Regions from separate parts of the Homo sapiens genome. Here all the other regions are reported to be linked to region 4. Evidence: microRNA targets listed by miRTarBase, many of them from high-throughput screens and not tested one by one. Region 4 holds a microRNA gene; each other region holds the end of a gene's coding sequence.
Evidence for each region. Region 4 holds the annotated microRNA hsa-miR-6715b-5p (ACAGGCACGACUGGUUUGGCA, at 3,541-3,561, opposite strand). A microRNA usually pairs through its seed, bases 2 to 8, with sites in the 3' UTR of a target mRNA and lowers its output. Matches are read on the target gene's strand: a 7mer-m8 pairs with bases 2 to 8, a 7mer-A1 pairs with bases 2 to 7 and ends in A, and an 8mer does both.

Region 1: miRTarBase lists CCDC59 as a target of hsa-miR-6715b-5p. The part of its 3' UTR that is shown has no 7-base or 8-base seed match.
Region 2: miRTarBase lists PPM1F as a target of hsa-miR-6715b-5p. Seed matches in the 3' UTR shown: 7mer-m8 at 5,429-5,435 and 7mer-m8 at 4,107-4,113.
Region 3: miRTarBase lists LRRC40 as a target of hsa-miR-6715b-5p. The part of its 3' UTR that is shown has no 7-base or 8-base seed match.

What each region holds. Positions count from the first base shown.
Region 1 is chr12:82,347,199-82,354,318 of GRCh38, forward strand. It overlaps CCDC59 (coiled-coil domain containing 59), which reads right to left. Exons shown (of 4, transcript NM_014167.5): 4 at 5,105-6,114. The coding sequence ends at 5,953. Among named protein-coding and RNA genes, the nearest start is that of CCDC59, 7.6 kb to the right of the region's middle.
Region 2 is chr22:21,916,499-21,923,618 of GRCh38, forward strand. PPM1F (protein phosphatase, Mg2+/Mn2+ dependent 1F) reads right to left here. Exons shown (of 8, transcript NM_014634.4): 8 at 2,927-6,973. The coding sequence ends at 6,594. Among named protein-coding and RNA genes, the nearest start is that of PPM1F-AS1, 18 kb to the right of the region's middle. RefSeq lists enhancers at 419-1,229, 3,405-4,064, 4,726-5,384.
Region 3 is chr1:70,139,042-70,146,152 of GRCh38, forward strand. LRRC40 (leucine rich repeat containing 40) reads right to left here. Exons shown (of 15, transcript NM_017768.5): 15 at 5,764-6,864. The coding sequence ends at 6,759. It overlaps LRRC7 (leucine rich repeat containing 7), which reads left to right. Exons shown (of 27, transcript NM_001370785.2): 27 at 1-5,323. Among named protein-coding and RNA genes, the nearest start is that of LRRC40, 63 kb to the right of the region's middle. RefSeq lists an enhancer at 1,723-2,224.
Region 4 is chr10:112,296,118-112,303,237 of GRCh38, forward strand. MIR6715B (microRNA 6715b) reads right to left here and starts at 3,571; the gene lies at 3,495-3,571. TECTB (tectorin beta) reads left to right here. Exons shown (of 11, transcript NM_058222.3): 8 at 1,952-2,114; 9 at 3,375-3,447; 10 at 5,984-6,016. It overlaps MIR6715A (microRNA 6715a), which reads left to right and starts at 3,495; the gene lies at 3,495-3,573. RefSeq lists an enhancer at 6,254-6,548.

The DNA of each region.
Region 1 (7,120 bases), not on the chromosome of region 4:
TGGAATTTTCCATTTAATATTTTTGGATTGCAGTTGGCCACACGTAACTGAAACTTTGAAAAGCAAAACCAGGGATGCAGAGGGTTGGGTGGGGGGTGGAGCAACTATGGTATATAGCCACATATGCTGTTAATTTTCCCACAAAAACAGTGAACAAATGTTAACTGTATCTACATGTGTACTAAAGAATGCTGCACATACATCTACCACTATGAAATAAATATTTACTTCTTCAGCAATTGGATGACAAGACAGGTTCCTATTGGAAACTACCAGGAATCTAGAAATCATAATTTTATTGCTTACCCTGAGTTCTTGAATAAATGGGTATCCTTTCTTGATAGGCTTCTTAAACGGCTATATGGGAAGATTGCAAGGATGAGATATGGCTGTCCTTATTCTTATAAAGACTCAATAATAGATTTTATTCCTGTGATTTCTTCAGGTTTGTGTAGATATTGGAATGACGTTGGTGGGGGGTTATAAGGATTTATTTGAACCTTACTTGGTCAATTGCAAATATTTCTCTCATCAGTAGAATCTTTAGCCTGAAGACTAGAAGTAGTCTGATCTAACAGTGCACCAGGAGAGTCCAACAGATGCAAAGGATCTGCTGTAATTTGGGTTGTTCCAATGTGCTGCCTTCTGGTGTACTTTAATTCCATAACACCATTACAGAGTGAGTGGCAATAATTTAGTTGGAGCAATAAGTTAGTTGTAGTTAGTTTCACACAACTGAAACTGGGAAAAGTTACAAGTCTGGTAAAATCATAGCCTATCAGTGTTTGCTGGAGACATCCTCCCCAGTTATTTTATTTGTTCTCTGAAGAACAGACTGAGATAAAGTGGTGAAATTTAAGGTAGAAAATACAGCATGCATATCCTCTAGGAACTGGAAGGCCGACCCTGCAAATAGATAAAACACAGAGCAGACAATGGGGTGTTACTGAGGTCCTTAGAGGAGTGTCATTGTTGGACCACTAATTTGACTTCATAGGCTCCTTATCCGTTTTACCAGGAAGCTCCTTTTCCAGTACCCAGTCATTTTACAGGTGTCATATTTCCCAAAAATGTTAAATACTAACTACCATGTGTCTCAGTCATTCTACTCCTAGGTAGTTACCTAACAGAAATTAAAGTGTATGCCCGTAGAAGACTTATATACAAATGTTCATAATAGCTTTATTTTTAAGAGCCAGGCCAGGAGTGGTGGGTCACACCTGTAATTCCAGCACTTTGGGAGGCCAAGGAGGGCTAATCACTTGAGGTCAGGAGTTCGTGACCAGCCTGGTCAACGTCACAAAACCCTGTCTCCACTAAAAATACAAAAATTAGTCAGGTGTGGTAGCATGCGTCTGTAATCTCAGCTACTTGAGAGGCTGAGGAAGGAGAATCATATGAACCCAGGCAGTGGAGGTTGCAGTGAGCTGAGAATGCACTGGTGCACTCCAGCCTGAGCAACAGAGTGAGACTGAGTCTCAAAAAAAAAAAAAAGAATGCCTATCATGCCTATCAGCAGGTGAATGGATAAACAAATTGTCTATGTCCATACAATAGAACACTCAGCAATACAAAGGAGCAAACTTTTGATAAATCCAACAACATGGATGAATCTCCAAATAATTATGCTGACTTAAAGAGGCCCAGACAAAAAAGTTTATAGTATATGATCCTGATTATATAAAAATTTTGAAAATGCATACTAGTGACAGAGCAGATTAGTGGCTGCCTGGGATTGACTACAACAGGCCATGAGGAAACGTTAGGAAGTGATGGTGATAGGTAGTTGATTGCCGTGATGGTTTCATGAGCATATGCAAGTGTCAAGAGTCACCAAATTGAACATTTTATGTATGCTCAGTCAATTATACCTCAATAAATCTTTTTGTAAAACCCAAGGTCATCAGGCCCATAAGTAGCATTTCCACCACAGGGCTCTCTATCAGCTCCATGGGTGATTCAATCAAGTGTTCTCAATGGGAATTATCCAAATACATAAAAAGCACCCAATGTTAATTTGCCAGCAAAATGCAGATGTCCCACCTTTCAGTATAAATCTTTCCTCTTATCAAACTCCTGGGGAGAAAATTAAGTCTACATATTAAGTTACCTTTCAAGTTAATGTCCAAAGACCAAAATAATCAAAACCCAGAATCAAATTCTCTCACTGTAATAAGGTAAAAGTTCAATAAAATTAAAGCCCTTCCCAGTTTCTTATTGGATTCACTCACAGGCAGAAATGTTCTTAATGCCTCTCAGGATTCCTTCAGCAGCTGCAGCCTGGCTGTCTCTTTTTGGATATGGATACAACACATTCATTTGGCACTTCAGAAGTTAAATTAGTTCAATAACTCTATGGTGTGCCTCAACTTACAAAAGGTCTGGAGAGTCAATAAAACACCCAAGGTAATTACAATACTTGCCTTATACCCACCAAATTTAAAAGGCAGTTATCCTGTACAAAATTATGCTCCCAAAACTCAGTAGTATTTATTGCCAAAGACTACATGTAGCAGAAACTCTATAGCAGGAACTCATGAATCAGTAGGAAGGAAGATAACCGGTGATGGCTTTAGCCTTATCAGAATGCCAGTCACATGAGCTGCACACTTAAACTAAGTTGGAAGAAATTTGTCAGCAACAAGTTAAACTTTTCACCATGCATTTAGCATGGTACTCTATCTTCTCTTTCAGAAAGTGACATCTGAAACACTGATGCTATCTTACCAAGTATAGAATTTGGAGTGGTCCAGTCCCAATCACCAAGTCAAAGGAGACCTGATCTTTTCCCAGTATGTTCAAATATCTTCAGATTCAAAATTTTCTCTTTTACACAGCATTTCAATGACTCTCAGAACAATTTAGACCTTGAGCTTTTCTAGAACTTTATATTGCAACCAAGGCACATGTCTTTAAAAGTAGCAAATACTGATACAGTCATTAACATCTAGCATAGCTATGAATATTTCTTCTTATATCATTAAATCCTTGCCACGAATAAAATTGTTTTCTGGTGTCGAGTTAGCAGCATCTGATGAGTGAGGCCTTTGCTGCTCACACATGCATATTTAATGTAGGCCAAGGTCAAGCTGCAGTAGCCTGCATGAGACCACTTGCACATGCCAGTGCCTTTGTTGATGCCAGCACCACTACAGTAGCTTGCTAAGCCTCACCTTGGGCTGGCATCTGGTGAGGACATCCATGAGGCCAGCATTTGGGTGAGCCCCACTTCCAGATTCTCTGTCTTTGCTGAAGCCAATATGTCTCCATCACCCTCACTCAAACTCTGCTTCATTGAGGCCTGCGCATATGTGCTTAAAGCCCAGTATTGCACATTGTCTCTATAGAAATTACCAATTTCTCTGGACAAAGATATCCTAAACTTTTAGGTCAAAATCCCACGTGCCTTAAGTCTTAAAGCCTCTTGCCAAAACTGCAACTAAAAGCCTACTTCACACTTACAAAGTCAAATTAATAGCCCTAATAGAAGCCTCTACAAACTACCAAGATCAAAGCTCCCTACGTATACATTAAGGTCTGAAACCAGAAACCATAAGCTATGGCCACAATTAAGCCTCTCTCTTTCTATGTTGTGCTCCTTCAAATTTTATTCCTCTTTTATTTCTTGATGTACTAACCCATATAGCACAAATTTCTATATATATTTTCCAAAAATATCCATCCCCCTTCTAACATTTATCAATATAGCCTGTTCTTCACTTATAGTATTAGAATAGCAATTAAGAGTACATGCACTCTGCTGACAGCCCAGGTCCTCCTCCCAGACATCATTTATTACTTTACCTCCCCTGGGTGGAACAAGTGGGACAAGAAGTAAAGATACCATGAGTGTTTGGATGATGGTGTCTTCTCCACATGGAAGGAAACAATAGGGAACCGATAGGAACTATTACCTCCATCAATAATAATATATTCTAACTACTTATTAGATATTTAAATAATACCAAGCTTGCTTCCCTTTGTAACTTTCCTCATGCTCTTACACTTCTAATCTTTTTAACCTCGAAGGCTTTCCTTAAATGCTATTGCACACATGAAACTTTCTCTGATTTCTTAAACCAAACAAAACCTCTTTCTTCTCTGAGGCCCTGGTCCAACATTTTTTAAGTGTGGCGAGGAGCAACCCAGCAGAATCACTGGGGTTGCCTGTTAAAACATCCATTACTAAGCCCATCTACAGTATCCAAATTCCTTAGTGTAGGGTCCTCAAACATGCCTCTTAAGAAGCCTATAGGCCAGGCACAGTGGCTCACACCTATAATCTCAGCACTTTGTACGGCCAAGGTTGAGCCATAAGGATCCCTGAGGCCAGTTCAAAACCAGCCCAGGCAAGGCTGAACTTGGCAAGACCTCATCTCTACAGAAAATGTTAGCCAGGTGTTGGCACGTACATGTAGTCCCAGCTACTCGTGAGGCTGAGCAGGATAACTTGAGCCCAGGAGTTTGAGGCTGCTGTGAGCCATGATCACACCACTGCACTGCAGCGTGGGCGGGAGACTGTCCACCACCAAGATAATAAAAAAAAAAAAAACGAAAAAGGAAAAGCTTCCTGGGTGCTTCATTGATAACACTAAAATCTTAACCTTTTGCTTTATCTGATTGTCACTGATTACTTTTTCCCCCATTATACCATTACTTGGCATTTATTCCTCTACAAGAACTTTGGAATTTTAAAGAGTAACTCCTTAATATAAGTTTTGCATAAAGTAGCTTTTAACAAAGTCGTTAAAATGAATATAATTTGACTTTCACTTGTCTCTCAAAAGGACTAGATCTCCTTCCATGTTTTGTCATGATTAAGTGTCTAGAAGTGAAAATGCACAAAAATTGTAAAGCAATTTACTGAAATAATTTATCCTCCATCATGATGTGATGTGTCTTCACCAATGTAGCCAAATTTAGGCTTTCTGGGCTGCTTACTTTAAATGCAATATAGTGCAATGCAAATTTCTAAAGCATTGCTTTTCTATGCAATGAAGATTAAGTTCAGTGTTATCTAAGCACTTTCTACTGATCTTGAAATGCAGAATAAATTAGTAGACTGAAAGAGCTCCCTAAAATCTTAATGCAATTTCAGACTGTATTTGCTATCATTTATAAAATTTTATTATTCAATATTTGGCAAGTATTATTGGTCAGCCCTTTTTGCTTACAATGACTATATATATATTTCAAGCCTTTCTCATTCTTCTGCAATTTGCAAAGCATGAGAAGCAGTTATCCCAGTGGCTTATCTCAGCTCACAAGGGTACCAACAAGGGAGACAGAGATAATGTTCTTAAAGTATAGGGTCCATAGGAACTGGAAAGCTTAATTCTTGCTGTGACACTGTGGGGTTTCCATCATTATTTAAAAGACCTTAGACTAACAAGCCATGTACATCCATTTAAGGGAATGTTTATAAATATCAGACTTTGAGTTCACTGCTTTGTGAAGGTCGCTTTGTTATATGGTGAGGGCAGTTTATTTCAGCACCCATCACCCTGTAACATGTACTTAAAATAAATAAAAAGTCCAAGAGGAGTCTTTGCCTCCCTCATCATTAAAATAAATTTTAAAACAACGTAACTGTTTACTAAATTGAAATATTTCATTGAAATGCTTCATTGATAGCTCTGATTCCTTATTTTTAAAAAATTTATTTCATATAAATCTCATATGGTACAAAAGTATTACATGCTTGGGCCTGTCTTGCAAAATAAGAGGTTCTTTCAGTTCTTCAGGCCAACCTTCCTTCAGAGGCAAATAAATAAGAAACATGTAGAACATATTTAGAAAATTTTTTACCATAATAAAAATATGTGAACATCTTATATTTAGCATAGTTTAGCAATCCAGTTTATGTCGACAAATTTAGTTCACTGCTGGGAGGCACATGTCACAGAAGAACCTAATAGGCAGCAGATATTTTAACCTGTAGGAACAAAATGTTTAACATTTTTCTTGTATTTTTTGAAGAAGGTACTCCATTTGTACATTCAAGTTTGGTTGGCCCTTTTTAGTCTTTTTGTTCAGTATTTTAAACACTTCCATTTTCTTCTTTTTGTACTGCCTTTGGGCTTCTTCTCTCTCCTGTTTTCTCCTCTCGAATTCCTAAAATTATTAACATATGTAACTTTCATTAGCAACAAACAGTAGATACAGTTCAGAAATTGTCTTGAAATAGCTATTACTAAGCAAACACTCTAAGGTTTGTCTCTTCTATTTTGCAAGATGTGCACTGTTTCTCCTAATTGAAGCAAAGTACCCTCTTTGCCTTCATATTATAATGACCCATGGTATAACAGAGAATTTTCATGATCACAAAGCCCCAGCTCTATATAAACAAAATTTTAAAAGGACATTAAATGTTTTACAGCATAATGGTCATTACTGCACTTCATCTGATATACTGTTTCCAAAGGTGACAGATGGTTGGAAAAAGCATAAAGCTGTGCTAGTTAATACTGGTCCAGTATTCCCATGAAGAAATTTTCCTGCTTTCTCCTAATCTGCCACCAGCTTAAGAACAATGAAAACATTTTTGATGTTAAGAATTCTTAATTACAGATATTCTAAAGCAAAAACAAGCAAAATTACATATCTTTAGGGTATTTTTAACTGACACATTATACTTTTTAAAGCTACAGATCAATAAAACTTCAATGGAAAAACAAGAACTACCACAGTTACAACAAAATGACAATTTTGTTGAGGCTGTGGGTAATTCTGTATTCATTTGAAAAAAGCCTAATTCTGGTCTACAATTCTGGTTTTCTAAATAATAGAGTGCTAACTTTTGCTAAGCTAAAATAATAGTTGTTTTTTTTTTTTAAACAGGCAAGAACACCTCTTTATAGTAAAAAAGTATTTTATTCTAACACCTCCCCTTTGCTTTTACTTTCTTCAATGTAATGTTATGAAAATCATCTATATTTTTCTTAGGTCAGTGGTTCTCAAGTTTTATCATACATAAAAATCTTTTGAGGTGCTTGTTAACAAGTGCAAGTTCCTGGACCAAACTCAGTGAAACTTTGTCCCAGATGTTCACAATATTGACCTATAAACAATGTGTTCAAAATCCTATTTTTGACCTACTAGTATTGCTTGACATAATACA
Region 2 (7,120 bases), not on the chromosome of region 4:
ACACTGTGGCCTGCTCCCATGGGTGAACCCCCTGTAGGTGCCAGGCAGCTCCAGCCCGTCTGCCTGCCTGTGCACCCTCAGTCCCTTGGGCCTCCCCCCCCCCCACCCAGAGGTCCTGAGAGAGGGTGCTCTCCGGGATCAGCTCTGTGAAAGTGAGGGGCAGACAGAGAGCACTGAGCCACTATCTGGCTGTGAAGATGAGTTTCAGACACATAAGCCAGTTCACCAGAGAACAGTCAAGACAGCAGATACTTAGGAAGGAAATCCTGCTGGGAGCTTCAGAGGAGCAGGGGTGTGGGGAGGAGGACATGGATGCTTGAGTAGGTGTGGTGGGCGGCCCAGGGCCTGGTCCCAGCTCTTGCATCCGGGGCTAGTTCCCCTGCTTCCCTAAGGATGCCCCCTCTGTGACACAGTGGACACAGATAAAGCTGTCTTTTGGCTAGGCGCGGTTGCTCACGCCTGTAATCCCAGTACTTTGGGAGGCTGAGGCGGGTGGATCACAAGGTCAAGAAATCAAGACCATCCTGGCCAACATGGTGAAACCCTATCTCTACACAAAAATTAGCTGGGCGTGGTGGTGTGCACCCGTAGTCCCAGCTACTCAGAAGGCTAAGGCAGGGGAATCGCTTGAACCCAGGAGGTGGAGGTTGTAGTGAGCCAAGATCGCACCACTGCACTCCAGCCTGGAGACAGAACAAGACTTCTCTCAAAAAAAAAAAAAAAGCTGCTTTTCTGGCGCTGGTCCTGGAGAGTTGGAGGCTGCAGCCCTGGGCAGCAGGCACTGCCGGGAGCCGGGGGAGGGGACTGAGAGCTCTCTCAGGTGGCTTGGGAAGGACCAGGAGAAAATGCACAGACAAGGCTACAGACAGGAGAGAGGAGGCCTGCAGGCAAAGTGGGAGTGGGGAAGGCACCGGGCTCAGGCAGCCCTAGGACAGCTGCTCCCATGCGCCCACAAGCCTGAGGGCCTCCCCCACATTCTACGGAGAAGTTCAGGGCAGCACTTTTGGCCGTGGCTGGGCAGTGTCTGCGGGGAGGCATTTCTGATGTTTGTGTGCCCTTGAAGCCTGAGCTCAGCCAGGAGCACAAGGGCGAGTTTCCCGGCCCCTGCTGCCTTGCTTTCTCTTGATTGAGAAAGGAACCAAAGATCAAAAGGCAGTGAAGAATTGGGGACTCTGAGAAGGGTGACTTTCCAAGGCTTGGACCCCTTAGCAGCTTTGCGGCCTAGGGGCACTTGACCCCTGTGTGATAAGCCGAATCCTCTTTGTCTTAGGTGGGGAATTGGTAGCTGGCTCATCCCTTGCCCCAGCACCTGCAGCAGCGTGGCAAACACTTGGCCAACATGCGCTGAAGGACTGGTCGACAGAGTCCCACGACTGGCTGCTTCAATACTGACCCCCTGAGGGCACTGAGAAGGCTCTGAAGCCGTCTCCAAGAGCAGTTTCATGTGTGCTAGGAGCTGCAGCCACATGGGACTGGGCCTGTGCGTGCTATCCTGGGGCTTCAGGGGGAACCAGCCCTCCAGCCTGCTAAGCGACCAGCAGCAACGCTCGGGCCAAGGCCCTGCATTTTGCTGCTGGCCGTCCTTGGGTGGGTGAGGCTACAGAGGTCTGGACTGGAGGTTGTGGTTGGGGGCCACAGGTCTAGAGCAAAGGGAGGCAGGTGGGCGGGCCTTGTGGGGGGTTCCCTAAAATCCATCAGGTGTGGTGGTCCTGAGGTGAGTTTCTGATATCTGTCCAAGCAGCCATCAGGGGCCAGTCCCTTCCACCAGGAACAGTGAGGCTTGCCCACCACCGAAGCGCTGCTCCCCACCCCCTCAGCCTCGCTCCCCCACCTAGTGCAGCCACCACTGCCATTCCTAGTTCTCTACCAGGACCCCAGGGCTTAGCACTGCCCACCCCTGCTGCTGGTGGATCTCTCCAGGTCTTCTGTTAAGGCATTTTTATCTTTTTTTTCCCTTAAAATTCCCATGACAGATTACATAAAAGCATTTTTAAAGCATGTTCACCGTACTAAAAAAAATTAGGATTTAGAAGAAAACCTAAAGGGGGGAGGAAAAAACCCCCTATAACCCTGCCCCTCAGGGAGCACCAGCAGTGAACCTGCAGTGGATTCACTTCTGGGCGGCAGCCGAGCTCCCATGTGGGACAAGTGCCATGCAGGCTTCGAGGATGGCGGAGCGGGGTGGCGGGAGCAGGGGGCAGAAGAAAGGCTCAGTGCTTTGTTCTTTTTTTGAGACAAGGTCTTGCTCTGTCACCCAGGATGGAGTGCAGTGGCGCAATCCTAGCTCACTGCAGCCTCAAGCTCCTCAAACTTAAGCGATCCTCCTGCCTCAGCCTCCTAAGTAGCTGGGACTACAGGCTTGTGCCATCATACTGGGGCTAATTTTTTGATTATCTGTAGAGATGGGGGTCTCCCTATGTTGCCCAGGCTGGTCTCAAACTCCTGAGCGCAAGAGATCCTCCCACCTCAGCCTCCCAAAGTGCTGGGATTACAGGTGTGCGCCACCACACCTGGCCTCAGGAGGTGCCAGGAGGGTATAAATGGTGGGCCTCAAGAGCGTCATGTCAGAGGGTCTCCATCCTCAGGATGGAACCTCCTGGGGCACATCAGGCTCCTGGATAAAATGAGGGGTCCTCAATGCTCCTGTGGCTCCCCAATGTCATGTGAGGTCCCAGGGGCTTAATCCCTTTCCTGTCACCTTCCTGCTGCTGGTGGGGGTGGGCTCAGAGCCCCTCAGGGAGGAAAATCAGGTTGCTGGCTAGACCAGGAGGGTGTAGGCCACCAGGGCTCTCTCCAGAATTTGTCTGCTCGCTTCGCAAGATTTGCAGATGGTCCCCAATATTAAAGCAGCTTCCAAACACATCTGGACATCAAAGGGGACAAGATGCTCAGAAGTCAGGAAGAAGGCAGGACTCGGGCGACAGAGTTCAGAACTTGTGGTTTATTGACACTTCTGCATGGTGGGTCCTTGGGAGACTGCCTTTCTGGCATCTTGGGACTTGTCCCTAAGAATAGGGAAGACAGTCATCCTGTCCTGGAGCAAAGCTCCCCCTTGCACAGGAACACAACTCCCATGCAGGAGAAGCCCACCGAGACGAACGCAGATAAACCCTTCGCAAGGCCTGCACTGCACCGGAATGGCAGAGCTCCGTGCATTTGGCAAAGCTATGGAGCCTTGGCAGAATGCACAGGACTCTGGGGGCTGCCCCCCTTGAGCTACAGAGGCAGAATCGAACCAAAAACACTGCTTCCTTTAACACAGCCCAACTGGCTTACATTTAGCTTGGGACGAGGCTAGGCCTAAGAAGGGCCAGAGCTGTCCTCCCAGCCCTGGGAACACGGCTGAGACGGCCCGGTGCCCACGCTGGGCTCACCATAGGAGAGGAGAGGAGAGGGAGGGGGCCCCATACTGGCCCTGCCGTCTGCACCCCGTCCCTTTCCCCACTAAACACACCCATTTCCTATCCTGGGTTCTGAGGCTGGGACTGCCTCTGGGATTCTGAGGGACTGCCCTCCACCCCTGCAGGCCTGGGCTCAGAGTCAGCCACACCTGTAAGGCAGGCCCTGCTTCCCCAGCTTTTGTATTCCATATACGGTGCTGGCATGTGGAGCTCCATTCTTCTCCAGCCCACTTAATTTTAAGAATAGACACTAATAAGACTTAACCACCCCAACCTGCTGGCAGCAGGAGGGCCCCTGTGTGCTGGCAGCATCTCCCCAGGACACGCCGGCTCACCTGCACCCACAGCGTTCTAGGAGGTCGCGGCCTCTGCAGACTCAGTGCAACCCCTGGGCCTTACAAAAGGGACACTCAGAGGTGCACTGCCTGCTCAGCTCACACAAGGAACAAGTGGAGAGCTGGGCTGGAGAAAGGATTACAATTTACAGACCAGTGTCCCTGGCTAGGGGCCCTCATGGGACTGTGGCTGGAAGAGAAGGTCGCCCCGGAGGTTGGAGGCTGAAGACACCTGGTGCTTCTTGGTGCAGTCCTGGTCAAGATGGAAGAGCGCTCCTCTGTGCCCAGCTGCTGTGCAGGGGTGGACGAGGGCTCCCTCGGCCCCAAGGCAAGGGCGGAGCAGCTCCCAGTGCTGGCACCAGACCTCTGCCAGGCACGGGGCATGGCCATCCTCTGGGGTCCTGGCTCAGGGGTGGGGAGCGGCAGTGCTGGGACAAGCCTGGGGAAAGGGTTTCCCATACACTGAGGCTGCGAGATCTTCCAGTGGAGCCTCAGGCTAGGGTATGAATCAGACCACCAGGTGATAGGAGCCAAACCTCCACATGGTGAAACTTCACTCTCGGCAGCCAGGAACAGAATTATTAGCAAAGAAAAGAGAAAAGCAGATGCCAATCATTCTCTCTCTTCGTCAAGGTTATGCCCACGGGCAGGGTGGGCTAGTGGTGAGGGTGGAGCTGCGTCCCTGACCCCCAGAAGGAGACAGCAGGCCTTCAAGTTAAGCCAAGCAATACTTGGTCATTGTTTGTGGCCAACCATTCTCTGAATGTCTGAATGACAGCGACTATGTTTAAGGTTTTTTTTTGTAAATAAGAGACCTTAAGCAATGCATTGACTGCATGGTCTCAACCTCATCTGTGCTGTGAGAATGAGGGGTAAGGCTGGGCATGCAGGTAGGGCCCCAGCAAAGCTGGCTCCCCGCTCCCTGTGGGACAGAGGGCTCCCACCGGGAAGGCGGCTCTAGCGTGCCTCCTCGGCGAGCTGAGAGGAGGCCAAGGTGCTTGGGGCACAGCTGTGCAAACCTTCCTGGGGCTCTCGCTGTCTGCAGGTGGACTCTGAATGCCTTCATGGGGACCACACAGCCCAGCTTCCTCCCTTTCTCCTCTCCTCCCCCTGCACTGCTCTGACCTGCCTGGAGCAGCCCTGCCCACCTCCAGCTCAGCCCTTCCTGTGGCTTGGCCCTGCAGATGGCCTCTGAGTCCTCCCCTAGCCCCCTGCCCTCTTCCCTCTACCCGACACCCTCCCCCAGCCTTGCCACTTTCAACTTTGCACGCCCTCAGTGAGCTCCCTGAGGCACCCAGGATCGGTCACTTGTGAGCCCCCTCTCAGGGTGCACTAGGGGACGTGGAGCTCTCATGCCTGTTCAGGGCATGGGGCAGAGCAAGGCAGGCGTGCTGCCAGCCACCGCGGCAAGGTGAGGGGCTGTGGCCTGTGCCATGGACTCCCAGCAGCATCCCTGCTGCCTCCAGACTGAGACAGAGACCCACGGGCTGCCTCTGTGCTTGCCTGAGCCTCTTAATTAAGAGTCTTTCCCAATGAGACCAATTTGATTACAAATTCACAAGATATTTGGGAATGTTCCAATCACACAGCAGCAAGGTCCCTCTGCCTGGGATCCAGCCAGGCCCAAGGGGGTGGGAATGCAGGCAGATGGGCCAAGGTCACCCGGGATGCCCAGAGCCCCGCTGTCGGGCCCAGGCACCACTACGTGGCAGTCGCAGCTCCTGCCAGTCACCTGGGCAGCGGGGGGAGGGGAGAACCTTGGGGGTGTTCAGCATCACAAAGAGGCGGAAAACTCTTCCAGAAAGATCTCACCAAAATCATGCCTCCCTAACAAAACAAATCCTGCTTTTCTAAAAACCTCAATGGGCCTATCCGAGCCCACTGCAGTCCTAGTTTCTTCAAAGCTGTGTAAGGCACTTGAATGGCTTATTAACACCACCTGGAAAAGTTCCTGTTTCAATCCTGATTTAGAAAATAAATTCAATAATACTGCAAAAAAAGGTTCCTTGAAAAATAGCTTTAAAAAAGTAAATACTTAAGTTTTCTAAAGAATAAAATAAATGCTAAGCTCTGCTTAAATTATATGACACAACAGGTCATCTTGGCACTGATAAAACAAAGAGAAAACCTGGAATACTGCTTCGGAATTAGACCTCCCTGGAAAAAAACAAACACACCAACAAAAGACACATGTGCGTCGCCGGTTCCGGGCTCAGGGAAGAGAGCAGCCCGGAAGGCCCTGGTGGGCCCAAGCACATCATGGCTGCCCTGGAGTGGGGGCAGGGGGGTGGCTGCTACAGAACAGACCCCTGGCTCTGCTGCGCTCTCCTCTTTGGGACACTGGTGTGGCCGACCAGGACTGGCTGGGCATATCTGTAAATATGAACCCACCTGGCCCTGGCCGCAGAGAGGAGCAATGGGAAACTGGGGCTGGCCACTCCGCTGCTGGGCCTGACCCAGGGGGTGCTTCAAGAGTTTGGCTCCTGGGTCCGCCCCAGGGTCCCACGTGCACAACCATGCTGCCCCATGCACACCAGTGTCTTTGGTTTGGCTGCCGTTGGGCACCTATGACCTCTGGTCCCACCCCGGGCCTAATAGGAGCTGGGAGCAAGAGCCGGTCCATCTTCTCTTTGGTGAGGTCTCCTAAGCTGCCTTCCACCATCTGCCCGCCACCCAGTGCAGTTCCACAGCCACCAGGACGGGCTGCGGGGGGTGTCCCGACTGGCTCTGGGGTGCTGGGGAAAGCACTGTGGGGCGGGCACCCTGTCCACTGCCTGCCACCTGTTGGGTCCTGAGGCTTCTGAGGGAGAGAAGGACAAGGATGGGAGGAAGGGGAGGGCAGGGGCCTGGAAACCACCTAGCTTCTTGGTGGAGCCTGGGTCTCAGGTTCTGGAAGGCTGGAGGGCAAGTCCTGCCTCCTCCCTTCTGCCTGGGGGTCCCCTTCTCCCTGGTTCCCGCCCTCCAGCAGCTCTTGGGGGTCCCTGAGGAAGACCACCATGACCGTGATGTTGTCGTGGGAGCCCCGCTCCCGGGCCGCAGCCACCAGCTCCTCGGCGACACGGAGCCCGCTGCCCTGCTGCCTGGTCAGGTGGCTCTGGACCAGGCCAACAACTTCCTGGTGGGGTACGACGTCAAAGAAGCCATCACAGGCAAGCAGCAGGTAGTCCTCGGAGCCCGTCAGCGCCCGGGAAGCTGCATCGGCCTCCCCAGACACGTAGGGCTTCTGGAAGACATCCCCTGGACAGGCGGAGAAGAGCCCGGGTCAGAGGACCACGGTGTCCACAGCTTCCTCCCCACCTACCCAGGCCTAGACCTCACATCCTGCAGGGACAGAGACCAACCTGCTCTCATGGGGTCTGGGGTCTGTTGCTCCCTTATGCAAAC
Region 3 (7,111 bases), not on the chromosome of region 4:
AGTCCTGCATCAGGTTATTCTAATGCTTCCTACTGCAAAAACCAAGCCCACAAGTCTCCAATCCTAAAAGTCACTAGAATATTGATATAAGGAATTCTGTGTCAGCAGTATCTCAGTATTCAAACCTCTGTTTAGGGTCCTGCATGTACTATCAAACAGCAAGTGATAGAACATTCAGGCGTTTTATTGGATTTCAGAATTCAGATTCAGAATTAAGTACTCTTGGGATAAAGGAAATTAACGAGCTTTTGACATTTCAAGAACTCATTGAGATTGTCAAAGGCTTCAGTAATGAACTCTAACAAATAGATCCAGAAGTCATAAGTGAGAAAGAAAACAAGCATGTCTAGTGAAATCTGTCCAGTGTACGTAACACTGCACAAAGAGCATATTTTATTCAGACCATTTGGATTCAGATGTACCCTAAAGACAACTATGCTATAATGGCTTGTCTCCTACTTCCTGGCCTCTAGCCCTACCCATTGCCCAGGTGGACGTTATGTTTTTAGTTTTTCCTTTGTGGGTGAGGGAAGAAGAGGACATCAGGTGAAGTGTGCCATTACTATTTGAAAACTAGCTCTGCAGGAAGGGTTAAATCAAATCCTTTACAGGGTGACCTTCCTACATCTCCTTAGAGCAACTGCATTTCAAAATAGGCCAAAGCTGAAGTCATAGGAATGAGACATTAATTGTAGGTTTTCAGGAAAGCTTCGGAGACACGGCAGGTACAGTCTCCTTAGAGCCTTTGAAAATACAACATGTAGGTCCTTCTCAGATTATGCTGAAACTCCAAATCCTTGTTAAAGGTTTTCCTGGACTCCTACAGTCTGGTTTGATCAGTTTATTATTAAGTACTGAATGACAGAGAAGGGTACACAGGGAGGACTTGTATCACATGAAGTAAAATAATTATTTCCTTAATGAGAAACTTAATTCTAGGGTACTTACAATAGCTGCCTTATTGGGGGAAGGGAGGCATAGATTTGCAAATGGTGGGTTTTTTCGTTTTTTTGTGTGTTGGAGTAATTGAAAAGATACATCAAGCAATAATAAACTAGATGTGCAATAATCTTGTCGAGTAGTATGTGCTGGTTTTGGAAAGGTGAAAAGAAAATTGTTACATCAGGCTGCTTTTATCAAGCTAAGCATGGGCATGCCTTTCCAAAGGGTATATTTGATCCTACAGTTAATTTTAACATTGGGCTGCAAGCTTAACCTCATCAGGAGTGGAATTAGATTTTACAAAGTTCCCCTTATCCAAACTACAGCACGCTTACTACTTTCTCCTTCCATTTTCCACACCTCAGCCCCCTAGGACCAGCTACTGGTAAGTCATTTTGTCCATTTTCATTGATCTGGCCACATAAGGAACATCCTGTTTCTTTAAATCCTCAATGCTTAAATTGCCATGTAGAAATCAACTCCCTATCAATTTTCTACATTTAATCCTTGGCTTCTTGTCATATTTTCATTTTTCTGCACTGGTTCCCATGGCAACAAGTCTGTTGGCAGAGAAAGTATGACTCTGCTTTTAGCCTTCTGCACAAGACAAAATCCTTCTGGTGATCCTCAGGCAAGTATAATATAAAAAGTCAGGAATTGACTACAGTTCCCTTGGCTAATGCCTCTAATCCTTTACTCTCTTGCATGCATTTTCCACCTTATTCCCAAACCAGGCTTGAGAAAAAAAGCATTCAAGGGCCCTGCCCAGTATCTCTTTACTGATACAAGTATTCAAAGGCCCTCCTATCCAATCACAGCCACAAAGACTGAATATTTTGGTTCAGATGGCTTTCCCTTCTCCCTAAGTGTCAGTGACTTAACTGACATAAATGCATAATTAATGACAAGGACCACTGGGAGCAGCATCGAGAAGCAACTTTCAGTCATTTTTCTATAAACAACTTTCCTCAGTTCGCAACTGAGGTGTAGCCCAGGGAATAAGTATGTCCTGAATTGAGCCTTAAATCAGTGACTAATAAGGCAATGGAACACTCAAGCAGATTTTCCTCTAATGAGTAGTTAAGTGGCACAGGAGGAGAGGCCAAGGAGTCATCCCAGAGTTCTAAGCTCATAAAGAGGAAGAGATAACAAAAGATGTAGATAAGAGGACATTGTTAACTGGTGGCTGCAAATGAGCAAGGGAGCTTCATTCAGTTGGGACAATTCAGGGTTCAGGTACGAAAAGGGTATGAAGCCTACTGAAAAATAAGGAAATGGAGCATGGAGAAAGAAAGGGTTTTTAAGAGTTAAGTCAGTAGAAAGGGAGCCTGCAAATGAGACAATAGCTTCATGCAGACTTTGGCCCAACTCTGTCTACAAATACTTTTGCAAATAATGTTTCTCTTAATAAAATGATATATTTTGTTTTGAACTTTGGAATTCCATTGTGGCTTGGCACTAAATTATAGGCCTAGCAATCCTAAATCTCCTATGTCCTCAATATCTAGAAACAAGCAGGAACTGTTTGTCAGAAATTAAACAGGACTTATTTGAATGTGCTTTAAAAAAAAAATCAATGAATTCAGGGGAATGAAAATACATGTTAGAAATTAAAATGTGGTTATCTCAGCTATAGTTAAGAAAATTATCAAATGTAAATGATCCCTTTTTTGCTGGATCTTATAAAATATGTGATACTTAAGTACACTGAAGTTTTAAAGTTAGCTGCTTATATTGTACAAAGATATTTTTGGCTCTTTAAAGGTTATTTTCCTATATTAAGAAAAGGTTTCTTATATTGAAAACTTTTATGGTGACTCAGGTTTTGTGTCTATGTATAGGCACACATAAATAGGAGGTGTTTTTCTTTGCACATTTGTTTTGCACAGCTAAAATAATGAGGTTAAATAATGCCCAGGTATGCAGGTCAATTGACCTTTTTAATAGCTTAACGAAAGCATTTGACAAATGGACAAAAGAAATCACATTGTATTTCTTTGTATCTCTCCATTCCTCTTACCCTTCCCCAACCCTCTACTAAAGAATATTTCTTATTTAGTCAGGAAATCTTATGTAATATTTTTGGACGGTCCATAGGAAAAGCAAGATGAAACTCTCAGGCAGACAACATAAAGCAGCTCCCATATCTGCTAGAAAGGTCATTAATTTTCAGAATATATTGTTGAAATAATTTTTATTTTCAATACTTGTAGTCTTTCCACTCAGAGGACTCTTATTTGGCTTGAATGTGGAAAAGGCATCTGGTTCAGGTCAGTAAGGACTGTTGTATGTAAGTTTTACTCTAGAAAATTTGGTTTTAGCTTTGATGACACCTAGCGTCAGTGGAATGCAATGAATGCTTAATACTTCGGCTTTATAATGTTTGGGCATTTCTCTTTAACATCCTCAAATACACTTTCATCCTTGAAAACACAAGCCTATTTTCTGTTTGAAATGAAGAGAAAGGTAATTGACAGATAAACAGATAGTTTTTGTTTGAAGAGCCAATCAAGTTTCTCTTTGTACTCAGTAGGGACTAAAGGAAGCTTAAGGATAATGACATTGTCTTCATATGAAGAAGAAATTTTTTACTAGTGGAAAATTAGAAGTAAATCTACCAAATTCTGTTTGTAAATTTTAAAGACCACCACAAAAGACCTTGAAAAAAGTGAAACTACTGCAAGATTACTGTTGCTTATTGAAAGTAATAATACAGTTTTATTTTTTCCACTTTATAACTGCCCAAGGGCTCCCCCAACCAGCTATATATAAGAAAACCATAACATGAACTAGGGTCTTTCTATTCAAAAAAGAAATATTAAACTAACATAAGCAATTCTGAAGGAAGACAGTGGTAGGTTTTCAGATGGTTTGTTAAGAATTATATGTAAAAGGATACTAGATATTATGTTTTGGATGTTTTCTAAGTATCTATGAAAATTATTTTTTCCTAAACGATTTCATAATTGATTACTTTTGACCTCAGTTATTTTGGGGCATAATCCTTTTACTACTCTATAAAGAAGTTCTACTTCTACCTATATGAATTTGTATTTTCCCATATGCCAAACACACACACATAAATTTTCTTTTTCTCATTTCAGCTCATATAATTCAGTTAGTGAAATATTTCACTCTTCTGTAAGTTTAAGAAAAATTCCTAAGCAGTGATACAACTTTGGGTCGCTATTTTAGTAAAATGAAGAGTCTCTAGACTTTTTTTTTTTTTTTAATGATCTCTGACTTCACTACCATATGTGCAGCACAACAGTGACATCTTAAGGCCAAGTAACCAGAGCTCCTTTAGCCAGAGAAAGAACTTGAATTGGGATCTGATTTCAAAGAAATCCCATTATATTATCAAGTCGTTTTCAAATTTACAATATTCGACTGGTAAAGAAAGTGCTTCTTTATGACTTCTTTTGCAGTCTTTGTGAACCTTTTAATGTGCAATAGTAAACATTGACATTTTACATAGACATATTGTATATTAATGCATGCATTTCACTGCATAGTTTATTGACACTACCCTTGTAAAGCTTTTATGGAAGAACCAACAAGCCACAGCAGTATAGCAAAAGAGGCTTAATCTTTATAAATTGGGGCCTTTTCTGTCTCTTTGCTAGCCTAGGTGGCTGTATACAAATTCGGGTGGGAGGGGGCAGGAAACACCTCTTCACATTTAAGGTTTTCTACTTGGGTGTACTCTAGCCAATTCAAAACAAATTGCTTACTTTAATAATACAATTTTACCATTTTATAAAAAAAATCAAATCACAACATGTTTAACTGAAATGGCTGTATTGTAATTAATATTTTGAGATAATTGTGATTTTGAGCTTAAATTATATATAAAAAATTGTCATTTTTGTATGTGTTAAAAAGACTACTATATCACAATTAAAAGTACTTTTTAGTTGAACTACATATTGATGTAAATAAAACTGAATGAAGACATATTTACTACTTTATTAACATAGATCGTGAATGTACTTACTGGTTTTTTTGCAGTATGAGACCATAACAACCTTGAAAGCTGCTTCATTTTATGTGCAAAGAAGTCCTATGAATCTATATTTTAAATTTACTGAACCAGTGAAATTAATTACTGTCAGTTAATTTGCAAATGCAAGCTGTATTCTCCAGTTTTATTTTATGTACTGACACTAATTGGTAAAGGTGTACAATGTGATTAGAATGCATTTTGAAGATGCTTTCTGTACAGATACAAAATACAGGGACTAAAATAATGCTGTGCAGTGTATAGCAGAGCCATTTTTCGGCTTTGGTGTACTCAACTTTTTCAGTATTTAAAAAAGTGTTTTGAATAACATAAAAGTCTCCTTATTGTATAAATAATAAAATGTCACCTTATTGTAAAGTGTCTTTTGTTTACTATCAAAGCAGACCTCGTAGTCAGCAACAGAGATGTAATAAGAAAAAGGCATGTTTTTGTTTTTATTTTTTATTTTTTTGAGATGGAGGAGTTTCACTCTTACCCAAGGCTGGAGTACAGAGTGGCGCGATCTCAGCACTCTGTCATCCTCTGCCTCCTGGGTTCAAGTGATTCTCCTGCCTCAGCCTCCCAAGATGCTGAGATTACAGGCACATGCACCATGCCCGGATAGTTTTTTTTGGTTTTGTTTTTTGTATTTTTAGTAGAGACGGGGGTTTCACCATGTTAGCCAGGCTGGTCTTGAACTCCTGACCTCAAGTGATCTGCCCGCCTCAGCCTCCCGAAGTGTTGGGATTACAGGCGTAAGCCACTGCCCCCAGCCAAAAAGGCATGTTTTTTTTAAAATGAAAACATAAACATTGTAATCAATATTTGAAAAATGTAACTTTTATTCTGAACATGTAGTATTTATCTTTATTAGCAATTTTTTTCATAATATAAGCATGCCTCAATCATCCAAAAGCTATCTACCTATCTATATAAATTGATATACATGCTACTGAATTGACTTCTTAATAGAATCATATGGTAAGTGTTATAATGACTAATCAACCTACTTCTGATAATTTTGGTGTAAACAAAAATGATATTTAATTTTTATTAAATCAAGTTTACCTATCAAATTCCCTTTTAGAAAAACACTGCAAGTTTAGTCTTACCAAGATTGCAAGTAAATTTTAAAATTATGGTGCTGTAAATAAAAAGGTTTTAAGTTGAAATGTGTACTGAGATTAGCCATATCACAAAAGTCCTATCATGGGTAATGAAAAGTCTTATTTTTAATATATTTTTGTTTCCTTTTTCTTTTGACATGTGGCCCAAGATAAGAAGGTCTTATTTTTTAAATGCCAAAGAACAGTATTCAACAAAATTCGATTTAATTTTATATCTAACAAAAACATAGAAACTGGCTAGTCATATTCAAGTCAATTGGTCACATTGTATGGAATACAAAAATAAATGAGAAAAAAAACCAGTTCTACAAAAATGCTTTGTTATTATAATACTGAACCACATTAAATAAAAATTCATTTTTGAAAAAACTGCTTGCTATAAGAAAATGAAAGTTAGCAGGATAAATCATAAGCAAAACATTTAGAACAAATGTATGAACACATTGTGGTTATCACCATTACAAATGTATACAACACCTTACAAAAATCTTAAATAAAAATGTAAAAATATTTACTGGCAGTGAATATGGCCCAGGCTAATTATACCAACAGGTAGGTGATACTGGGAAACTACAAGATCAATTACAATAATCACCTTTTAAGATGATACTAAAACAAATGTTACATCCTCCTTAGAATTAACCAGGGTTAATAATACATGACAAGGGTTATAAAGCAACTCCATGTTAAGTAGGAATTCGGTCTCTCAAATATTCAAGTATAGCAGCTGTTCCTTTCATTAATATGGCTGCTCGAGGAACTCGGAATGGATTTCCATCCAGTAGTAATGTTCTAAACAAAAGAGAGAAATTGAGAATGTAAACATTTTCCATTAACAAGGTTTTTCATCTAATTTCATTTGCAATTTTATAAATAAAATTTCTGTATTTTTTTTCTATTTGCCCCTTTTTATTTTTATTTCTTTTTTTGAGACAGAGTCTCACTCTGTTGCCCAGCCTGAAGTGCAGAGGTGCAATCTCAGCTTATTGCAACCTCCACCTCCCAGGTTCAAGTAATTCTCATGCCTCAGCCTCCCGGG
Region 4 (7,120 bases):
TCCCACAATCTCCAGATGATTTTTGCTCACAACACTGGGCCCCTTTGGAAAAAAAAAACCCAGTTTGCAAAAGTTCCTGGAGAGATGGCAGGAGATATATCATAAGGAATTTCCCTGTACACATGGATGCCCCAAAAGCAGCATACTTATCTCAAAGAGCAATCTGACATGGGAAAGGAGGCTCATGCAGAGAGGGCATAAAAGCCTCCTGTGGGCTTCCACCATCTAGAGGCAGCTGCCACTGAAGTGTGGGTGCTGCAGCTGGTGCCAAGAAGCAGCAGTGCCAAGGCATCTAGATCTGCCTATTTTTTGCCTCCTCCCCACCCCCTGACAAAGCTCTGCTTACATTATTTTCCACTGGCTGACCATGCCTGGGGCACTCTGGCTGCAAAGAGCTATTTTAAGAACTCCCATCTTGAGTTCATACGAGGATCTCGTGTTTATTGACAAAATGATCCTACAGAAGTCTTGTTTCACAACTTGGAAAATGCCACAGTTTCATCACTGTTCAGAGCCCACCACACACAGACCCGGCTCTGACCCCTGGTCCAGATACAAAGGTACAGCATTCCCTCACTTCACTCCCTCACTCTCACACTTGACTTCCTTAGTGCCTGCCTTTAGCTTGGCCCCCCGTTGTCTGTTTCTGAGGGAAAAGGGGTGGGGTAGAGAACATCATGAAGGTTCCCTGGGGTAACTGGACCGCTCTCTGGCGTGTGTGCCGAGTTTACCATACAAGAAGAAAGATGCTTCAGAGTTGCATTAATCTGGGGCCTGCTATGGTGCTATTCAGTGGTCTGACGCTTTCGAAACATAGACCTTTTCCTGCAGAGCGACAGACCCTGCTACCCCGTGCTACCTGCAGATAACAAACCCCCACAATAGTGTGGGCTTCTCTGTACAGTCCCAAGAATGGTTGCGTCTGTTTCCAACACCTAGTTAAAGGAACGGCACTTAGGTCATCAGTCTTTGTTAAATGAAAAAGTATGTTTGCTGAAACTAGGGTTTCTCAATGTTGGCACCTTGACATTTGGGGTGGGACCATTCTCCACTGTGGGGGCTGTGCTGTGCACTGTAGGACGTTCAGCAGCAGCCCTGGTCTCCGCCCACTCACTAGATACCAGCAGCACTTCCCCCAGCCTGGACAATCACAGTGCCAAATGTCCCCTGGGGCACAAAGTGGACCAAGCGAGAACCACTAGCTTAAATAAATGCCCATCTGTGTCATTTTTTAAACTGAATTATTACCTTTGAGACGTTGGAATATCATACAAATATTGTATTCTCATTATAGAGAATTTGGAAGAATACATAAAAATACAAAGAAGAAAACCAAAAATGCCCATAATTTTATCCCTTTGTATCAGCCTGTGTTAACATTTAGACGGTATCCTTCAGTCATTATTTCTGTGCTTATATTAAAAATGTGACCACATTTTTACAAAAGTAACTATGTAGATATATATAATTTAAATAATATACCATAAATACAAATTTTCAATGCAAAACCTCACAGTTCACACACAGAAATGTGTTGGGTGTGACTTGAGCTTAGGCAGCTGTGGCAGCAGGGGCAATGCTGCACCTGGTGCCATTGTCCTTACTTTGTATGTCCCTCAAGGGCTGGACATATTCCAGTCCTCGGAGGGCCTTATCTCCTAGGGATTTTCTTTCTTTGGGACACAGGTGTAACTTACTAAAAGTGTGACTCTTATAAGTCACTCCCCTCCCATCGTACCTTGTCTATAGAATGAGGACAGTAATACCCATCTCCTAGCTCATCAACTTGACCTCACAGTTGTGAAGATCAAGTGAGGTGCTGCTAATCAAAATGCCTGGGAAGGTTAGAGGTCATATAACCACCTCGGGAGCCTTGTGTGTAAATCGCTCAGCAGCTCTTGCTGGAGTTCAAGGAGATGACAGTTCACTCTTCTTTCCCCATCTGCCTCAGCTGCCCCACGGATGAAACCGTCCTCGTGCATGAGAATGGGAGAGATCACAGGGCAACCTTCCAATTCAATGCTTTCCGGTTCCAGAACATCCCCAAACTCTCCAAGGTGTGGTTACACTGTGAGACGTTCATCTGCGACAGTGAGAAACTCTCCTGCCCAGTGGTGAGCTGCCTCTCTCCAGAAGGACAATGTTACCTAAAGGGTGCCAGTATTGGAGGAGCTGGAGTTTGAGTGGGGAGATCATAACCAGGCCAGGGCAGCTGTGTGCTGAGGACATCTGGAGGAAATGGCACTGAGTATAAGGGCAGATGCTCGTGAGGGCAGATGCTCAGGGCCCTATCTGCCCTGCCTCCAACAACCCACATGGTCTGGCATGTGTCGCCTAACCTGCTGGGACCTGCTTTCTCATCCTTAAGCAAAGTGTGTTAAGTAATGATGGCCCTTCCCTCATCAGAGGGCAGTGTAGGTAAATGAAAGTGATAACAGACTTGGAAATACTTGGAAGAAGTGAAAAGGGCAAGGGAAATTCAAGGTCTAGGTGGCAGGGACAGGCCGTGGAAATAACTCAAAAGGTGGGTGTTTTTAGTCTTGACTGAACAGCCCGAGGGTTCACCTCTGTGACTTCAGAGAGATGCTGCAGAAATTCCCGACACTGGATCATGGCTGATTTGACCACGTGAGAGGAAGGCCTGGGCAGGCTGTGCTTTAACAAGCCAGCAGTCATGCCGGTGCTCACTCAAGCCTGAGAACCACCACTTAGACACTTAGACATGCCAAATCTCAAACTGTTCTCCTTTCTGGTCTCTTTCAACTGGAGACCTCGGTGTTTCCAAAGAGGCTGCTATCCACATAGCCTATAGTAACCAACAAAAATAAGGTCATAATCTCTATTGCTGTTGTTTCATTTGGCCAGAAAATGGTTCTTTATGAGCACAAACAGCAAAAGGGAAAGAAACCAGAGAGTGCAGAGCCAGGGAGAGGAGGGGAGAGACACTGTACAGTTGATCAAAGGATAAGTATCAATGCCATATTTTTAAAAAGAAAGAAAAGAAAATGAACCAGAATACAATTGCAAGTGTCCACTTCTCTAATTATTGTGGTGAGAGTGGTAAGTAGAAGCCTTATCAAAGGAAATGGGATCAATCCCTTCCACACTCAATGACCTCTTCCAGAAGGATTCCCTCTGGCTTGAAGAGTTAACAAAGTAAAGCTTTCTCTTTGTATTCAAGTTGGAGAAGGGATGAACAGTGTGTCTTCTGGGTTATTTTTTAAAAAGGTAACTCATCTCTGTTGACTGGGGAATTGTGACTCCACCCCATTTGTGACCTTTTTAAAATATCTTTTCTTTCTCTTTTCTCCCCTTTGCTCACGCATCATCCCACCTTCCCCGCTTCTCTCCTGTCTGCCTCTCTGGGTCTTCAGACCTGCGATAAACGGAAGCGCCTCCTGCGAGACCAGACCGGGGGAGTCCTGGTCGTGGAGCTCTCCCTGCGGAGTAAGCGTCTCTGTTTTCCTCTGTTTTCCAAACGGTTGAGTTCACGCTGGGCTGCGTCCACAGGCACAGCCGGTTTGAGCATTTTTACTGAATTGCCAAACCAGTCGTGCCTGTGGGCACAACCTTCACCTGCTCCTGGAGTCTTCCAGCCAGGGGTGGGGAACAGCTCAAGCCAAACGAAGGAGTTGAGGTTTGTTATCTACTCTGAAAGTTCTAACTGCACCCTAAATTCAAATACCCCCAAAGAATCAGGAAGTGCTGAGCTTCCAAACAGAGCATGCAGTGAACAATAATAATAGAAAATGAGATGTCATGGGGCCGGGCTCGGTGGCTCACGCCTGTAATCCCAGCACTTTGGGAGGCCGAGGTGGGCAGATCACTTGAGGTCAGGAGTTTGAGACCAGCCTGACCAACATGGTGAAACCCCACCTCTACTAAAAATACAAAATTACCTGGGCTTGGTGGGGCACGCCTGTAATCCCAACTACTCGGGAGGCTAAGGCAGGAGAATCACTTGAATCTGGGAGGCAGAGGTTGCAGTGAGCTGAGATCGCGCCATTGTACTCCAGCCTGGGCAACAAGAGCGAAACTCCGTCTCAAAAAAAAAAAAAAGAAAGAAAGAAAAAGAAGAAAGAAAGAGAGACAGACAGACAGACAGAAAGAAATAAAGAAAGAAAGAAAGAAAGAAAGAAAGAAAGAAAGAAAGAAAGAAAGAAAAGAAAGAAAGAAAGAAAGAAAGAAAGAAAGAAAGAAAGAGAAAGAAAAAAGAAAAGAAAAGAAAGAAGGAAGGAAGGAAGGAAGGAAAAATGAGATGTCATGAGAATGTCATGTGCAAGTCAAAAAACCTTTACTGAGTATCCAGCACTGCCTGGCCTGGCAGGGCACTAGGATTTCAGAAATAAATGTGACCCAAGCAGGCCCTGTCCTCAAGGGATTTACTGTCTAGCAAGGAGAGAGATGTTAGACACTAAGGGAAAGAGAAATTACTGTTAAGGAGGGTGACAGTGGGCTGGTGCCATGGTTGCACAGTTGATCATCACTAATGTGAAAATCCAAAATCCGAATGCTCCCAAATCTGAAACTTTTTGAGCACCCACATGATGCTCAAAGGTCATGCTCACAGGAAATGCTCATTGTAGCATTTTAGATTTCAGATTCCAGGTTTTCCAGTTAGGGATGCTCAACTAGTATAATGCAAAGATTCCAAAATCCAAAAAAAAATCTGAAATCTGAAACACTTCTGGTCCCAAGCATTTTGGATAAGGGATATTCATCCTGAATGGAGCAAAGGGATTCAACCTAGTACAGGGCTTGCAGAAGAGCTCTGCTGACAATCTCCAAGTGAGACCTGAAGGATAGTGTGACATGAAGGGTGGGCAAAACCTGTGGGAAGGCGGGAAGCTGTAGCGGCTCTATCTTAGAGGACAGTCACCAAGCTATGGCCAAGGGCCAAGGCCCAGGTGCCACCTGGTTTTGTGGCCTGGGAATTAAGAACAGTTTTCACGTTTTTATGTGGTTCAAAAAAAGAATCAAAACAACAATATTTCGTGACATGTAGAAATTACGTGAAATTCAGGGCCAGGCATGGTGGCTCATGCCTCTAATTCCAGCACTTTGGGAGGCCAAGGCGGGCAGATCACCTGAGGTCAGGAGTTCGAGACCAGCCTGGCCCTGTCCCTACTAGAATACAAAAATTATCCGGGAGTGGTGGTGCACACTTGTAGTCCCAGTACTTGGGAGGCTGAGGCCAGAGAATCACTTGAACCTGGGAGGCAGAGGTTGCAGTGAGCAGAGATCACGCTACTACACTCTAGCCTGGGCAACAAGAGTGAAACTCTGTCTCAAAAAAAAAAAAAAAATTATATGAAATTCAAATTTCAGTGCCTTTAAAGAAAGTTTTATTAGAACACAGCAACACTCGTTCATGTAGATATTGTCTACAGCAGTGCACTGCAACTACAGGTGGATTTGTGGTAGCAGAGATGGGATGGCCTGCAAAGCTGACAAAATGTACTATTTACTTTTTTCTTTTCAGAAAGCTTACCAACCCCTGCTTTGGAGAGAAAGCGTTGTGAGATGAAACTTTGTAAACCCCCAGTATAAACTGTCTGAAAGGCAATGGAGCACCTGATGGTTTAATCAGGGGAGGATTGTGGTCAGGTTTTGTGTTTTATTTATTTATTTATATTTATTTTTTTGAGACCGTGTCGCCCAGGTTGGAGTGCAATGACGTGATCTCAGCTTCAAGCAATTCTCCTGACTCAGCCTCCTGAGTAGCTGGGATTACAGGCACGTGCCACCACATCTGGTTCATTTTTGTATTTTTGGTAGAGACAGGGTTTCATCATGTTGCCCAAGCTGGTTTCGAGCTCCCAACCTCAAGTGACCCGCCCACCTGGGCCTCCCAAAGTGCTGGGATTACAAGTGTGAGCCGCAGCCCCCAGCCAGGTTTTGTGTTGTAGAAACATCACTCTGAGACTTCTCCTTTCCATGATCTTTTCTTAAACTTTCTGCATTCTCTCTTTACTCACTACAGGCAGGGGATTTTCCAGTCTCTATAGCTTCTCAGGTAAGGAAAAGAGACACTTCTGGGATTTCGTGGGGCTATGCTGTTAAAAGGCAGAGAGTGTTTTAAGAGAAGCTTAACTTTGGCCCCGGCAAAACTTTTAAGGATTGAAAATTATACTTTAAAGCACACCTGAGTGGCGCAGAGGGGGCGAGATCAAGAGGTCTCCCTCTGACCAGCCCCTGAACTCTGAAGAGAGGGAGGAACCGAAGGTAAATCGGATGAAGCAGAACTGGACCTCACTTCCCCAAGTCTTAGTAAAGCCATCCCCAGATGGCTTCCCTTGGATTCCAACATTTACAGAACAAGATTTTCAGTGATCTGTTCATTCAACAAATATTTGAATTCTTGTTATGGCTCTGTCTTTTATTAACTGAGTGACCTTGGGCAATGACCTCACCCCTCCTCCATACCCTAGTTTCCTCTGTGAAATTGGGCTAATAATTGCCCCTATCTACATGGCTGTGGTATAGATATTTAATTACAGCTAAGGGCACTGAACAATGCCCAGCAAACAGCAAACACCCAGTCAGGGTCAGCCATGATTATGATGACTGTACTGGGAACTGGTCTTGTGGCTACTGCCGTGAACAAGACAGACAAGGCCCCTTCCCTTGCCAATATGTGTAGAGTATTTGGGGTTCAATGGGGGACGTGATTTAGAGAGCAGCCAGGGAAGCCCCTTAGAGGAAGAAACATTTCAGCTAAGACCCAAGATCTCACCTGAATGATAAGAAGGAAGCAACTACATGAGGAGATGGGGTAAGACAGTTCACTTATTAATAATCTCACAGACAGATTTTGCTCTCATCATTACAGGAGAATCATGTAAATCAACTTTTAAAATTCCAATCCTAGATTCTCATCGTTTTTAAGTTCTACACTGAAAGCCCTAGAGTACCATGCACCATCACTGATTTCTATTTGTCAGAGGTCCACAACCTAGGTTTATCTGTCAGGTTCTTTGTACTGATAAATGTGAGCTACAGAATCCCCAAGGGATGAACAAAATCGACTTTGTCTAAAATGTGTGGAATTTTATGAAGACCCCTGAGTTAACTCTTCTGTTGAGTTGGCTTTACCCTTGTAGAACTGTCTCTGAGTGCC